2 separate regions of the Homo sapiens genome follow, and region 1 is linked to region 2. Evidence: fine-mapped QTL for protein levels in blood plasma. A gene starts in region 2. The other region holds a variant in brackets. All regions are shown on one strand. Distances are between the middles of the regions.

The links. PIP is the chance, under the fine-mapping model, that this variant and not a neighbour inherited with it causes the effect. Protein levels are from antibody-based Olink assays in UK Biobank. Linkage for the fine-mapping came from a reference panel and not from the study's own genotypes, which makes the PIPs less certain.
Region 1: its variant is fine-mapped to the plasma level of the LYPD8 protein (UK Biobank, PIP above 0.99).

Annotation. Positions count from the first base shown.
Region 1 is chr1:248,803,770-248,812,172 of GRCh38, reverse strand. SH3BP5L (SH3 binding domain protein 5 like) reads left to right here. Exons shown (of 7, transcript NM_030645.3): 7 at 1-1,727. The coding sequence ends at 273. It overlaps LOC124904577 (a long non-coding RNA gene), which reads left to right and starts at 4,655. Exons shown (of 2, transcript XR_007067008.1): 1 at 4,655-5,124. RefSeq lists enhancers at 6,711-6,920, 8,329-8,403. The variant C/T (reference allele first, on the strand shown) is at 4,915.
Region 2 is chr1:248,755,123-248,763,376 of GRCh38, reverse strand. It overlaps LYPD8 (LY6/PLAUR domain containing 8), which reads left to right and starts at 7,618. Exons shown (of 7, transcript NM_001085474.2): 1 at 7,618-7,672; 2 at 7,991-8,138.

The DNA of each region.
Region 1 (8,403 bases), 49 kb before region 2:
GGAGACAGCGGGATTGAGGGGGCCGAGGGTGCGGGGCTGGAGGAGGGCAGCAGCCTGGGGCCCGGCCCCGCCCCCGACACCGATACCCTGAGTCTGCTGAGCCTGCGCACGGTGGCTTCAGACCTGCAGAAGTGCGACTCCGTGGAGCACTTGCGAGGCCTCTCGGACCACGTCAGTCTGGACGGCCAAGAGCTGGGAACGCGGAGTGGAGGGCGCCGGGGCAGCGACGGCGGAGCCCGTGGGGGTCGGCACCAGCGCAGCGTCAGCCTGTAGCCGAGGGGCCAGGGTTCCTGGCTTGAATCTGCCACCACGGGCCGGTTGGGGCCCACAGTCTTCTCACGCCCTCTCCTCTGGGGCCTCGTCTTCCCGAAGGTCCCCTTCTCCAGTGCTTCCCTGGGAGAGGCCAGCTGTGTTCGAGTCCTCTGTGCCTGCCCTGGCGTTCTCACAGCCTCCCCCTTCCCCTCAGCAGGCGGCTCTCTTTGCCTTACCCATTCAGAAGGCTCGCCCTCGGCGCTCTGTCTGCCTCTGCCTGCCAGCTCATCACGATCTGCAGGGCATTGACCCTTTGCTTTCCCTTTCTGCTCCCTCTCTTTCCATCTGTTTGGCTTTTTCCCTCAGGGAACTTGGTCTAGAAGGCACTGGGAAGCTCATCAGAGAAAATGGGTGCTGGGCCTGAGTACTCCCGTCGGAGGGGATGGACAGTCACCCCTCCCGTTGGTTTCCAGCCCCGCCCCCCTTCCCAAGGCAACTCTGGAGGGTACCCTAGGTATGCTGCTGAGCCCTGCCCCCCGTCCTGCTCCAGCCTGCCCGTGTGTAACCTGTAAGATGTACTGTGTGCCTCCGGAAGACACCACCTTTCCCTTCAGCATTCCCTTTCATGACCTGAGGCACTCTGCGATGTGTGCCCCAAAGCAGAACTTACAGGGCCTGCAGGAAGCTGGTGTCAGGGAGAGAAACCCAACCCCACTGTCAACATAGGGAGCATCACCAACTCCAGACTGGCTCCTGTGGGTATGGTGTTTCCGCTGGGCTGGGTCCTCAACATTGCCAAGGTGCTAGTGGGTCCCTAAGAGGGCCCATGTTGGGGGTGAAGTCATGAGGTCCTGAAGGCTTAGGCCCCTGTCATTCCCACCCTCACTCTTGCTGCACAGTTGTGTTTACTTTTTCTGGGTAGAGGATGCTGAACTGACTCAGCACCCTCCTGCAGGACGGGGTTAGGGAATTTGGTGCTCAATTGCTCTCCCTTGCTCTTCCCCAAACTGAAAATACCTACTGCAGGATCCCTCGGGGCACACTGAAGCTTGGCTGCCAACCCTCTTACTTCCTTTGTTACAGGGAGGGGTTGGCTTGGGGTGAAAAGTTCTGCCCTCCGCAGGGAGCAGCTCCAGCTGCCTGGCAGTGCTCCCAGTTTGTAGGGAAGCCACACCAGATCTGGGTGCCTTGGGAGAACCAGTCCTTCCTTTTGACCCACCCCAGGAAGATGGAGTGCTCTTTTCTAGGCCCATGTTCTGCCAGCAACCGGGATGCGTGGGCAACTGGACTCTGCACGGGGGTCTACAGGTTGAGGGAGGTTGGTCACAATGAGAACCTCGGGGTTTGAGGTGGCCATGGGCAGACAGCCGAAAGGGAGGGAGGGTGTGGGTGTGCGTGTGTGCATGTGCTGGTGTGTAAGGGGGAAAGGGTCTTTCCTGGTTTTATTTAAATAAAGTAGTTTATGTAACAGTTAACATCTACTGTCCTTGCTGGAGGAAGAGAAAAGGGGCAAAGATGAGGCAAGGGTTGGGCAAGGGAAGAGCAGGGTTAGGCGGCAGGCTTTTTAGATGGTGTGGTCAGGGAAGGGAGGTGAAGGACCAGATTGAGTGAGCTGCGCTATGCATGCTCTTGCGGGGGTGGAAGGCCCCATGGCCAGGGTGGTCATGTACAGGGCAAGTGTAGAGAAGCAGGGGAGGAGTTGGTGCCTCATGGGGCCATGCTGTGTGAGGTGATGGGTGCCAGGAGAGGGTTTGGTAGAAAGGGGCCTGCGGGGTGGAGTGGGCTCTGTCTGAGCTAAGAGATGAGAGTGCCAGAGGGTTGGGATCTTAGATGTGTCTGGATGTGAGCATGAATGTAGAGAAGGGACACAAGTAGTGATGCCAGATTTATCAATACAGTGAACCCACTGAAATTTCAGATAGGCAGTATTTTTGTCTGCTGCAGTGTTTAGGATGTACTTACATTATGAATTATCCGTTGTTTCTCTGAAATTAAAACCTAGATAAAAGGTGACTTCCAAGTCAGGGCTTGACTGGCTGGGGGATGGGAGGGGTTTGAGGGCACTTGAACTCACAGGTGGGAGATTGGATAGGGATGTGAACTCCAGGAGCTTTGAAGAAGAGCAAAAGGCTTTGTTTAGCCTGAGCTGCACTTGGAGTGTACCAGTATTTGGAGTTTTGTTGAGAAGAGGTCAGCCAAGGGAAGAAGAAGGTGCTGGCAGGGAGGAAGACCAGAAACCTTGGGGTCAAGGGGCAGGGTGAAGGCCAAGAATTGGAGGCACGCAATCAGAGCAGTGACCCTGGTGGCTGTGGACGCCATCTGAGGGGCCATCTGGGGCCGCTATGTGCTGAGCACTCACTGTGCCTTTGGATGGGTGCTGTCCAGGAGTTTGAGATTGCCTTCCCTGACTTGGCAGATGGGTGTCATAATATTTTATTACTAGAAAAGCTGCTATGAAAATGCATAGCATATGTTTTTGGGTGAGTGGGCTTTTTAAATTTTTTAAATTGTATGTATAGGAGGTGAACAACATGGTATTTTGATGCACATAATGAAATAGGTATCAAATTGGCCTATCATTTTGCAGTTACCTCCCCCCTTTTTTGTTGTGAAACCGCCTAAAATCTACTCTCAGCAAATTTTCAGTCTATAATACAGTATTATAGTCCTAATGAAGGGCTTTCTGAGATGACACACAGTGCTGGACTTCCCTACCCAGTCACTGGCAGGCAGGACCTGTGAGGCTCCTGGTACAGAAGAGCCCTAGAAAAGAAGGGCTATGCCATGCACGTGCGTTTCTCCTTGCAAAATCACCTAGAAGATGCGGCAGGCGGGAAGAGAGACCAGGAAGGTTAGAGCCAATGGTACTTCTAAGGAGAAGAAGACAGAAGCCGAAGAGCTCCCTCCCTCCCACCCTCGTTGTAGTAACTTGTACTCATCCAGTGCATTTCACGTACCAGGAACGCCCCTAATTAATCTCTACAACAATGTTATAGGACAGATAAACACTATGATTTCCTTTCCACGGTAAGAAAATAAGGCACAATGGGGGGTACTCAGCCTTGCTGAAGGTAACGGAGGCGGCTCCCACTAGGCACTTGGACTCTAGAGTCCAAACGCTTGAACCACTGGGCTCACAGGAACAGGAGGTGAGGAAGTGGAGGTAGTCATCTCCGAGGAAGTTTTGCTGGGAAGAAGAGATGAGAAGTGGGAATACTGTTTCTTAGCTCCTTCTCCCAGCAAAGAGGGTCGAGAAATTTTGTTTAAGGTGAGGAAGAGATGGTCAAGGTGTGGGGGACATAGGGCCCCATCCCCCATTCCTGTACTGTGTCATGTTACATGTTACATTGGCCTGTTGGTAATGAATTGTTCTGATCTTCATCTTCCTCAAGTGTGGGGCTGGGGCCTCAGTCTACCCAACACCTGACACAGGCTCTCACCAACAGATGCTCAGGAAATGTGCTTTTGCTTCTTGCCCCTTCTCTTAGCCCACAGCTGTATCAGGTGGGTTTATCAGTACAGCAGTTTGGAGGTCAGGACCTGGTGATGCACAATCCCAGGATCACATCTCTATGGGAATTCTCAAATTTCATGACGCTTCAATTTTATCGCCTATAAAATGGGAGCATAGAGGCATGTGTGGCATGCTGCTACATCAGTGGATCTGAGGTGCAGCGATTCCTGTTAGCACCTCTTCACAGCCTCGGAGTGCTTAACTCACGGAGGCTTCATCCCATCTTGCGCTAGGCAAGTGGACTCTATGAAAGGGTTGTGTTTCCCTCCTCATCTGGATATGATTTTTGACAAGCATGACAACCCCACTGCCTTTTTAAAAATTTAATTTTTAATATTTATTTTATTATGAGACAGGGTTTTGCGCTGTTGCTCAGACTGGAGTGCAGTGGTGCAATCATAACTCACTGCGGCGTGGGACTCCTGGGCTCGAGCAATCTTTCTGTCTCAGCTTCCCTAGTAGCTACGACCACAGATGCACACCACCATACCCCGCTAATTTTTAACTTAATTTTTTTTTTCTCTGTAGAGATGTATTGCAGTGTTGCCCAAAATGGTTTTGAACTCTTGGACTTAAGCAGTCCTCCCTCCTTGACCTAAAGTGCTGGGATTACAGGCTTGAACCACTGCTCTTTGCCTTTTTTTTTGTTTGTTTTTGTGACACTCGTTCTAGCCCAGGCTGGAGTGCAGTGATGTGATCTTGGCTCACTGCAACCTCGACCTTCTCGGCTCAAGAGATCCTCCCACCTCAGCCTACCAAGTAGCTGGGACTACAGGTGTGTCCCACCATGCCCAGCTAATTTTTGGATTATTTTGGAGGCGGGGTTTCCCTGTGTTGCCCAGGGTGGTCTTAAACTCCTGGGCTCAAACGATCCCCCTACCTCGGCCTCCCAAATTGCTGGGATTACAGGCATGAGCCACCATGCCTGGTTATGCTTCCAGCCTTTAGACATCTTTTAAAATTGACATATTGTAATTGTACGTATTTGTGGGGTGTGGAATCAACCCATCTGTAGATGCTCCTACTCTGCCTGGCAGGAAGAGCGGAGATGACCTTCTTGGGCTGTCAAGGTCTTGCTGTGTCAGCAGGGGGCAGCAGCTACCAGAAAGTGCGCAGAGCCTGGGCTCTGCATTTCCCTGCGCGCACTG[C/T]GTGTTGACCCTCCAAGCCTGCGTGGTCAGCCTCATGGGCACTTTGCAGAAGGGCCTGAAAAACTGCACATAGAAGGGTGGGGGTGTGTATACATCAGAATGGAACCCTATTTGTACTTGTCATGGGCCTCTTGCATTCCCGTGTGTCCTCGGAATCACCTATTGCGTGTGAGAGCTGGCTCAAGTCTGCAGCGCAGCTGGTCTCAGGAGGTAAGATGTTCGATATGTAGATGTACCCTGTTCTCCTCAGAGCTCACCTCCTTCCTTGGCCTCCCTAGTGTCTTTTCCCTCTCCCTTTCCACAGCCTCTTTATAAATTTCTCCACCCACGCCTGCTCACCATTCCTGAGCCCCAGGCTGCAACACATTGCTCATGCCCTGGGATAAGGGAACCAGGAGACCATACACTGGCTGGCAAATGGATATGTGTAGTTTACTAAGAAATGTTCACCAGGATCTTTCAGTGTACAAACACTGTGGTAGGCCTTGTTAGGAACACTATAAACTGTAATGCCATGGGTGGGTCTTCCAGGTAAGGAATGCAGGTGTGCACAGGTGGTGCAGGGCAGTGAAAAATACATAACCAGGCCAGGAGCAATGGCTCACAGCTGTAATCCCAATGCTTTGGAAGGCCAAGGTGGGAGGCTCACTTGAGGACCAAGTTTGAGGCCAGCCTCAGCATCATAGTGAGAACCCGACTCTACAAAAAGTAAAAAAATTAGCAATGCGTGATGGCATGCACCTGTAGTCCTAGCTACTCCTGAGGCTAGTGGGAGGATCTCCTGAGCCCAGGAGTTTGAGGCTGCAGTGAGCTATGATCACACCACTATTTCAGAATGGGTGACAGAGGGACAACCTATTTCTAAAAATAAGTAAATAAATAACTAATGAGGGCTGCAGTCAAGGAAAAATCTGGGAGGTTACAGCTGGGCATTGCTCTCCGAAGCTCTGAACCAGCCCCTTGGTCTCAGACTGGAGAAGTGGTGCCTGGCTCCCAATCCTCACTCTTCCCAAATCTGTCTTGAGCTCCCAGGGCCTGTGTCTCACCCATCTTGGTGTTCTCAGGACCTGGAATGTGGAAATTTTCACCAAACAGCTGTCTACTGACTTACTTCTGCTTGTGCTACCCTTGGCACAAGTTTCCTCCCTTCTCAAACTGTCAAACTGCTGCCTGTGGTTTGAGGACCAGATCATGTGGTCAAAAGTCCACATGAGCTGGGATTCAACCACAGGCACCTCTCTAGCCCAGTCTGAATTAATCCTTATCACTCTCAAGTTCCCCATGGCTCTTTTGACTTACTGAAGAATGGGCCGGTTGTTGTAGACATGTCTCTTGTTGGTCCTAAGTCCTCAGAAGAAGGGGTCAGTATCATCCTTGACTCCATCTCACTCAACACATAACACAATAGACATATGTACAGGGACCATACGTGATGCATAGTCTAAATTGGGACAGCTGAGTGTGAAAGGGGGCAGGTGTGGCCTGGGACTGACTTGGGTGATCTAGGACATATGGTCACCCTCATTCTAGGTGCTCAGTAAACATTAGTTCTTTTGAGAGCTTCGGTGTTAAAAACACTGACCACACTATTCAGAGAGGGTTGCCCTTGGCCTGCCCCTGCCACAAGGGGTTATGTGCACAGGGACAATTCACTCAGCTCCTCTGGGCCTCAGTGTTCCAATCTGCCGGAAGTGTGGACAGACTCAGTAGATAACCTCTAAGGTTATCTAAAGCACTAAAATTATACAGCTGGCAGTGGAGGCTGGGCCATGCGAAGAGTTCTGATGGATGATGTGAAATGGTGCATGTGTTTGCAGACAGGGTTAGGGGTTGGAGCATGAGAAACCTGAGCAAGTCCAGAGTTGGTTAGGACCCAGCCCGGAGGGAGCAGAGGGCTGCTGGATATTTCTGCTTGGGTGTGAGATGATCATCGTCCAGAGGTCGAAGAGCTCAGAGTGCTGGGCAGTAGTTTCTCTTTCTCCAGGCAGGCAGGTGGCTTTCACTGCACAGTGCAGATACGCTTCTTGATTTATTCAAACATAGGAGGAAGGGAGTGTCAAAATGAGTTTCTTCCCCATTTAGAAAAGAGGAACCTTCTTGGTCTAGGGTAGAGTGGAGCAGCAGAGCTGCCTTCTTCCTCAGCTGCGGCTTCATCTTCCATGCTCCTTCCAGGCCACCCCATCCTGTTTCGTCTCTATGATTTCTGCAATAACATGCAGAAGAGCTGGATCATCTTCACACTGACACAAGGAAATCTCAGTTGTGCCACGGCCTGCTTTTTTCCAGCAGGAATTCTTAAGGGCCTGGGGGCCTGGGGCAGCAGTGAAGGCTGGAGGAGGCTCATGGAGCTGTACAGGTTCGCAGGGGCTGCTGTGGTTTAGGGAAGAAGGAGAGGATGTTGCTTAATGTCACCTGCCTTGTGTGCTAACCTCAGTGTTGCTATGGTTTCAGCCTCCCACTCCACTTGGAGAGAGAGGCCAGGAGCCCACCTGCCTCTGCAGCCCACCTGCCTCTGCAGCCCAGGGTGGGAATGTAACCGTTGCTGCTGTACTCACATCTGACCTTCCTTCAGCTGATCTTCGCCCCTTTTACCAGATCTCCTCTTTCACTTTACAATTTCAGAAGCCTCAGATTACAATCCTCTCCATTCCCTCAAACAGTTGCATCTGGCAATAGTGACCATGGCTGCCCCATTGGAAGGGACTGTTAACAGAAAAGGGCATGAGGCCTTAGGAGGAGGGGAGCTACGTCTTCATAACACTAACAAAAACAAACCCGAGGTTAAATAAAGTGAACCAGGTATTTAGTTCACCTGCCACCTGGGATATACTTTTTAATTTTTTCTGGGTTGGTTAAAAATATATTTAGGGCCGGGCACGGTGGCTCACGCCTGTAATCCCAGCACTTTGGGAGGCTGAGGCGGGCGGATTACCTGAGCTCAGGAGTTGGCAACCAGCCTGGGCAACATGGCGAAACCCCTTCTCCACTAAAATACAAGAAATTAGCCGGGCTTGGTGGCGTCCACCTGTAGCCCCAGCTACTCAGGAGGCTGAGGGAGGAGAATGGCGTGAACCTGGGAGGCGGAGCTTGCAGTGAGCTGAGATCGCGCCACTGCACTCCAGCCTGGGTGACAGAGTGAGACTCCGTCTCAAAAAAAAAAATGTATATACATACATATGTATATATATTTAACGACACTTTCAGAGAGAATGTGACAGAGATAAAAGCTGAATAAGAATGACAGGAAAACTGATCTGGAAGCATAAATGATGAGGATGAGAGAAAACATCTGCAGCTAGACAAACCCAAAAGACTTGGAGAAAGTGACAAAAGTGAAGCAGCAGAGACGAGGAGAGACGTGAAAATACACGCTGGAGGGAGGGACATCAGAGACGAGAAGAGGAAAGCCTCATAGGTGACTGGGACATCAGAGATGAGAAGAGGAAAACCTCGTAGGTGACTGGGACATCAGAGATAAGAAGAGGAAGG
Region 2 (8,254 bases):
TCTCTGGCTGCCCTTAACATTTTTTCCTGCATTACAACTTTGGTGAATCTGACAATTATGTGTCTTGGAGTTGCTCTTCTCGAGGAGTATCTTTGTGGCATTCTCTGTATTTCCTGAATCTGAATGTTGGCCTGCTTTGCTAGATTGGGGAAGTTCTCCTGGATAATAACCTGCATAGTGTTTTCCAACTTGGTTCCATTCTCCCCGTCACTTTCAGGTACACTAATCAGACGTAGATTTGGTCTTTTCACATAGTCCCATATTTCTTGGAGGCTTTGTTCATTTCTTTTTATTCTTTTTTCTCTAAACTTCCTTTCTCACTTCATTTCATTCATTTCATCTTCCATCACTGATATCCTTTCTCCCAGTTGATCGCATCGGCTCCTGAGGCTTCTGCATTCTTCACGTAGTTCTCAAGCCTTGGCTTTCAGCTCCATCAGCTCCTTTAAGGACTTCTCTGTATTGGTTATTCTAGTTATACATTTGTCTAAATTTTTTTCAAAGTTTTCAACTTCTTTGCCTTTGGTTTGAATTTCCTCCTGTAGCTCGGAGTAATTTGATTGTCTGAAGCCTTCTTCTCTCAACTCGTCAAAGTCATTCTCCGTCCAGCTTTGTTCCATTGCTGGTGAGGAACTGCGTTCCTTTGGAGGAGGAGAGGTGCTCTGCTTTTTAGAGTTTCCAGTTTTTCTGCTCTGTTTTTTCCCCATCTTTGTGGTTTTATCTACTTTTGGTCTTTGATGATGGTGATGTACAGATGGGTTTTTGGTGTGGATTTCCTTTCTGTTTGTTAGTTTTCCTTCTAACAGACAGGACCCTCAGCTGCAGGTCTGTTGGAGTTTGCTAGAGGTCCACTCCAGACCCTGTTTGCCTGGGTATCAGCAGCGGTGTCTGCAGAACCGCGGATTTTCGTGATCCGTGAATGCTGCTGTCTGATCGTTCCTCGGGAAGTTTTGTCTCAGAGGAGTACCCGGCCGTGTGAGGTGTCAGTCTGCCCCCACTGAGGGGTGCCTCCCAGTTAGGCTGCTCAAGGGTCAGGGGTCAGGGACCCACTTGAGGAGGCAGTCTGCCCGTTCTCAGATCTCCAGCTGTGTGCTGGGAGAACCACTGCTCTCCTCAAAGCTGTCAGACAGGGACATTTAAGCCTGCAGAGGTTACTGCTGTCTTTTTGTTTGTCTGTGCCCTGCCCCCAGAGGTGGAGCCTACAGAGGCAGGCAGGCCTCCTTGAGCTGTGGTGGGCTCCACACAGTTCGAGCTTCCGGCTGCTTTCTTTATCTAAGCAAGCCTGGGCAATGGTGGGCGCCCCTCCCCCAGCCTTGCTGCCACCTTGCAGTTTGATCTCAGACTGCTGTGCTAGCAATCAGTGAGACTCTGTGGGCGTAGGACCCTCTGAGCCAGGTGCGGGATATAATCTCCTGGTGCACCATTTCCTAAGCCTGTCAGAAAAGCGCAGTATTCGGGTGGGAGTGGCCCGATTTTCCAGGTGCCGTCTGTCATCCCTTTCCTTGACCAGGAAAGGGAACTCCCTGATCCCTTGTGCTTCCCGAGTGAGGCAATGCCTCGCCCTGCTTCGGCTCACGCATGGTGCGCTGCACCCACTGTCCTGCGCCCACTGTCTGGCACTCCCTAGTGAGATGAACCCGGTACCTCAGATGGAAATGCAGAAATCACCCGTCTTCTGTGTCGCTCACGCTGGGAGCTGTAGACCGGAGCTGTTCCTATTCGGCCATCTTGGCTCGGTAGTCGACTTACATATGTTAAACCATCCCTGCATCCATGGTATGGAACCCACTTGATCATGATGGATTATCTTTTTGATTTGCTGTTGGATTTGCTTAGCTAGTATTTTGTTGAGGATTTTTGCATTTATATTCATCAGGGATATTGGTCTGTAGTTTTCTTTTTCGGTTACATCCTTTACTGGTTTTGGTATTAGGGTGATACTGGATTCATAGAATGATTTAGGGAGGATTCCGTCTTTCTCTACTTTTTGTAATAGTGTCAATAAGATTGGTACCAATTATTTATTTATTTATTTGAGAGGGCGTCTTGCTCTGTCACCCAGGCTGGAGTGCAGTGGCGTGATCTTGGCTCACTGCAACCTCCACCCCCTGGGTTCAAGCAATTCTCTTGCCTCAGCCTCCCTAGTAGCTGGAATTACAGGTGTGCGCTATCATGCCTGGCTAATTTTTGTACTTTTAGTAGAGATGGGGTTTCACCATGTTGGCCAGGCTGGTCTTGAACTCCTGGCCTCAAGTGATCCGCCCACCTCGGCCTCCCAAAGTGCTGGGATTACAGGCATGAGCCACTGTGCCTACCTCTTCTTTTAATGTCTGATAGCATTTAGCTGTGAGTTTGTCTGGTCCTGGACTTCTTTTTATTGGCAACTTTTTAAAAAATTTACCATTTCAATCTCTCTGCTTGTTATTGGTCTGTTCAAATATTTTCTTTCTTTCTGGTTTAATCTAGGAGGGTTGTATATTTCCAGGAATTTATTTATCTCCTCTAGGTTTTCTAGTTTATGCATGTAAAGATGTTCATAGTAGCCTTGAATGGTCTTTTGTATTTCTGTGGTGTCGGTTGTGATATCTCCTGTTTTGTTCTAATTGAGCTGATTTAGATCCCCTCTTTTCTTTTTTTGGTTAGTCTCACTGGTGGTCTATCAATTTCATTTATCTTTTCAAAGAACCAGCTTTTCGTTTCACCTATCTTGCTACCAAATTGGCATATAAGTAAACAAGTACTCACAAATTAAGTCTAAATGGTTTTCAAGTTCATGTGAATCTTTGACAAATAAAACTGGCTTCAAAAATTATTAGTAAAATAATAAAAATGTCTTTAGAGTCATCAGCATACATTTCTGTCTAAATAAATTTTATATTGACCTCTGTGGTTATTAGGGAAATAACTTTAAATAATGACTAACTTTATATAATACCTTGGTTTTCAAGAGTAATCTAAATTGTTAAAAAATAAATTAATTAAATACATATACATGAGATAAATACCTATAAGTGGACTTTTTGTGTAATGTAAAATCTTAACATTATTTTAAATTAAATAACAAATGCTTATTGAATGTCTGGGTCATTTCCAATGTAAATAATTATTATATGAGAAAACATGGTTCTGAAATAGTGAAATAATTTTATCTATAAAATGCTAACATCTGACATACAGTTCAGATTTCTTGCTTCCCATTTTCACTAAAATTTAAGATTACTAGAAATAAAAATTCTAATTAATATATAATTCTGTAAATTGCATTTTATAAAAAATAATTTTGTGTAATTTGGAAGCCATTTTAAAATCATTTACTTGAAAAGGCAAAAAGAAACCAGAAGTGGGGAAGAGAGATGTGAAGAAAGTTATGGTATAAAGTTGCACCCGTAACTTTCACATATATATATATATATACTCGTAAATTAAGTCTAATAATACTGCTATGATTATTCATGTACAAGTTTTTGTATAAACAGTTGTTTTCATTCAATTATATTGGGTATATACCTAGGTGTGGAATTGCTGTGTCATGGGTAACTCTCTTAGAGGAACTGCCAAACTCTTTCCACAGTGGCTGCACCATTTTACATTCCTACCAGTAGTGTATGAAGGTTCCAATTTCTCCATATCCTTCCTAATGCTCGCAATTTTCCTTGCTTCCTTCTCTTTCTTTCTTTCTTTCTTTCTCTGTCTCTTTTTCTTTCTTTCTTTTTGATTTTATTTGTGTTAGTGGGCATGAAGTAGTATCTAATTGTGGTAGAAGTGTGTTCTGAGGCTGGACCTCACCTCAGACCATTGCCCTGTGCAGATGCGAATGTCCCTCTGGGCTGTGCAGTTGCCGATATGAGCTCAGAGAACAATGATAGCAGTAGTAGCCATTGTTTTTAGAGCCCTTTATGAAGTGATAGTTTCATCATCATTGTCGGCTTGTGCGACCTCCTTTGACCCTCAGAATAGCTACTCAGGCCGTAGTGCTGTTTTTGCCACTTGAAAGATGGGAAACCCAAGACTCGGGGGGATCATCATCTTACATAAGGCCATGGACTATTGGGGAAGTTTATCTTCCAGGATATGCTCATTTCCTCTGCAAGGTGACTGGGGGGCAGGAATGTTGGGGGCAATAATTCATTATTTTTAGCCTATTCTCACATCTCCAAGCGGGAGGAATGAGCTAGTCAATGAAAGGCTCCCAGAAGCAAACACAGAGAGAAGGCGGGTCAGGGGTGGATGCTCTTGATCCTTTTGCTGAGTCTTTGGCTTAGACTCCTGTTGGATATAATTCCTGCCCCAGCTTCCCTGACCTGACCCTACACACCTCCACATGCTTATTCCAAAATGGGGTAGGCTCCCCTGGAAACTCACCTCCAAGCTTTGCTGGTCATCAAGGGAAGCTTTGGGAAAAGGCCGTTTCCTAAAGTGGTTCCAGATTTACCACCGGATGACTCACTGGGACTCAGCTGAGCTCCAGGTTTGCCTCAGCTCAGCAGGCTGTAGGGACAGCCAACCTTGTCCCCTTCTAAGAAGATGATGGAACTAGGGTGCCTACGGTGTGCCCAGGGCTTCTTAGTTTAAAAGTTGGGCTGCTTGTTGCGACTTAGCTTCTCCTGGGTCTCTGGACTTCTTTGCTAGTCAGGAGGAGTCGGCTTTAGAGAGGTGCTTTTTCATAATTCCCTGTGACTGATTCAGGTCCTTGGACCCCACATTAATGACAGAGAGGTGAACCTCTGGGAGAGGGAGGAGTGGAGTCAAGTCGATGTCTCCAATCCTGCGGGTGGAGGCTGCGTCCCACCTGAGCCATGTTGAAATGGAAAGATTGCTGGCCCAGGCGTCTGAAGGCCTATAGGGAAGGCCTCCCTGGGCCTGTTTCCTTATCTGTCAAGGCAGCTGGGGGTACCCTTGGCGCACTGCCGGGGCTTCAAAAGGATGAACCCAGGACTGCTGTGAGCAGCCGTATAGACTGCGCAGCCTAGTTCAGGGGGCTTCCATTGTCTTCAGTGTCCTTACTGATAAATGGCTCAGTTAAAATCATACGTGCTATTAATAATAATTCCCACATGGTTAGACGTCCTCAGGACATTATTGATAGATAGATGGCCTTGGAAAAACACAGAGGAATGGGGTGATGATTCCAGGAGTAAATAAATCATCAGGAGGCATTTCTTCAGGGCCTGATGATTCCATTTTAAAGACAAAGAGCTCTGGCCCAACAAGTGCGGTTAATAAGTAACTTATGTGATGTGAGGGACAAAGTCTGGATTCAGACTCAGATCTTTGTGGTCGCTTTGGGTCCATTTGCCTGAGTATCTGGTGCCTTCTGAGAGGAATTAACATTGATCAGCCCGATTTTCTCATGCCAGTACTCAGCCTGACACCAGAGCTGTTATCTCAGAGGCAGTGTTCATGAGCTCTTTGGATCCTCCATCGGTGGCTCAGGGAGGCCACATTCCTGAAACCCGCAAGCCCACACACACCCCATTGGATATTACTGTGCCACTTCTCTTGTTGTGCCCTGCCAGGTGACTGACTAATGTGTGCTGGGAAACAATATGGTTCTGTTAGGGAGGAAGCTGCTTTTTTTTTTTTTTAGGAAAATGCTGTGATAAGCAGCCTGAAGGCAGATGGTGAGGAGAGGAGAGAATAAGAGATGGCCAGAGTCTCTGCTTATAAAAATAACTCAGATTTTGTCTTCTCCATGAGACCTACTACAACCTCCTCATTGAAAGTGGAAGCCTGCACCTGCTCACCCCCTAGCATGGTTGATGACTTATCCTACTCTTTGTCTTTTTGCCAGAGCAGTCACCACATTCTGACTTTCCCTGTGATTTGCTTATTTACCACTTTAATTTATGTTGTCTGTAGTCCTCTCTAGACTACACTCCAGGAGGGCAAAGGTCTTTGTCTTTTTGCTCACAAATACCTCCCGGTTTCCTACAGTAGGCCTAAGACAGGGAGGGTGCTCAAAAAATGTTTGTTGAATGAATGCATGAGTTTGGGGAAGGAAGAGAGAGCTGAGACACAGGTAGCGTAGCCATCCCCAAGGGGTATTTTCAAGAGCAGGGAACTGCAAGGTTTAAATGCAGGCTGGGGGATACTGGTATGATGTGTGCCCCTCAACCTCTGCATCCTCGGCTGAGTGGGCTCCTCCCACTCCCCACCGTGTGTGTATAAAGTGTCAGCACAGTGGAAAGATGAGGAGGGAAGATAACTCAAGTCCACACTCAAAACCAGGAGCACCCATGGCACAGTGTGAGGAGACTGGGAGAGTGTGAGGGTTAATATTGAGTGTCAACATGATTGGATTGAAAAGTATTGCAAAGTATTGTTCCTGGATGTGTCTGTGAGGGTGTTGCCAAAGGAGATTAACACTCGAGTCCGTGGACTGGCAGAGGCAGAGCCACCCTCAGTCTGGGTGGGCACCATCTGATCAGCTGCCAGCTCTGCTAGAATATAAAGCAGGCAGAAAAATGTCAAAAGGCTAGACTGGCCTAGCCTCCCAGCCTACATCTGGGTGGACATCATCTAATCAACTGCCAACACAGCTAGGATAAAAGCAGGCAGCAGAACGAGGAAGGACCAGACTGGCTGAGTCTCCCAGTCTCCATCTTTCTCCCATGCTGGATGCTTCCTTCCCTCAAACATCGGACTCCAAGTTCTTCGGCTTTGGGACTCTTGGGCCTACACCAGTGGTTTGCCAGGGGCTCTCAGGCCATCAGCCACAGACTGAAGGCTGCACTTTTGAGGTTTTGGGACTCAGACTGGCTTCCTTGGTCTTCAGGTCACAGACAGCCTATTGTGGGACTTCACCCTGTGATCATGTGAGTCAATACTCCTTAATGAACTCCCCTTCATACATATATAAACTCACCTTCTCTAGAGGACAGAGAACCTGACTAATACAGAGAGGCCTCAGTTGACCTGACCTGGGCTGTTACCAGTAGCTGCTCAGATCACTTGGCCAGAAAGACTCTCTCGATGGCTGCTGTGGGCTCTCACCCAGTGTGCAGAGCACACTGCAGGCAGGGGCTTCACGTCATGGTCCCTCTACCACACTATGAGGCTGCACAGTGAGTTTACACTCATCTTGGTTGGAGGACCCTCAAATCTAACAAGGTTAAGACACTTGCCTGTGGGAAACTGAGGCCCTTTCCTGAGTTGCACAGACCCCACATAGTCTGATTCGGAGCTCTGAGTTCTGACTGTGCCCCGGCTGTGTGCCCATGAGCATATCTCTTATGGCTCTCTTTCTGTGCTTTGGTTTTCTCATCTATAAATGGGCTAATCATGGTGACTGTTAGCAGGTTGTTAGGTGCTTGTCATTAGCAGGTCATGGAATTGACTTAGAAGGCCACAGACAATGCTGGAAGATACCTTACTCCTGTTTACATTTTGCCAAAGGCAGGCCTTGACCAAAGTTGTTCCCAATTCCTAGAGGTCTCAGAGAGGGCACGAGCTGCACAGATGCCAAAGGGTTGGGCAGCCTGTAGCTCTATTGGGCAGGGCACAGTCTGAGAGCCAGAAGCCTTAGCCTGTCTGACCCAGAGGTCCCACCCCAGAAGACAGCTGTGCTTTTTGATTTTACAGCCACCTGCTATATAAGGCCTCTCCCATACCAGCCCTAAGCCTCTACTGGGAACCACCTTCTGTAGGACAGTCACCAGGCCAGATCCAGAAGGTGAGAGGACTGCGAGGCCGGGGCCTGAGCCCTGGGAGAAGCTGAAACCGCAGGAAGGGCATTCAGGACCAGCTCAGGTCCTTCCCCGGCCAAGTCCAGGACATTCTTGCGGCTCTTGCTCCTTTGGCATTGCCCTAGGCAGTCGTATGCTCAGGAGAGGGAAGTCTGGAGTTCAGGGAGGATGTGGGCTGGGGATGTAGTTTTCTTGTTGTTTTGCCATCTGCTACTGTGTGTGTGGTTTGTGTGTAGTGTGTGCGTGTTCTGTGCATCATTCTGTGTGTGACATTCTTCATTCTGTGTGGTTTTGTGTCCTCACAGCCTCTCTAGGCTCCAGCTTTCTCTGTGGAAGATGACAGCAATTATAGCAGGACCCTGCCAGGCTGTCGAAAAGATTCCGCAATAAAACTTTGCCAGTGGGAAGTACCTAGTGAAACGGCCTAAGATGCCACTTCTTCTCATGTCCCAGGTGGGGGCCCTGCCTTGAGCCCCAGCTTCACTGGTCCCTCTTACCCACAGAGGTGTTGAGCACGGCCCTGGGTCCTGCTATGGGGTCACTCCCAGGCTCTGTTTCTCTGCTAGGTG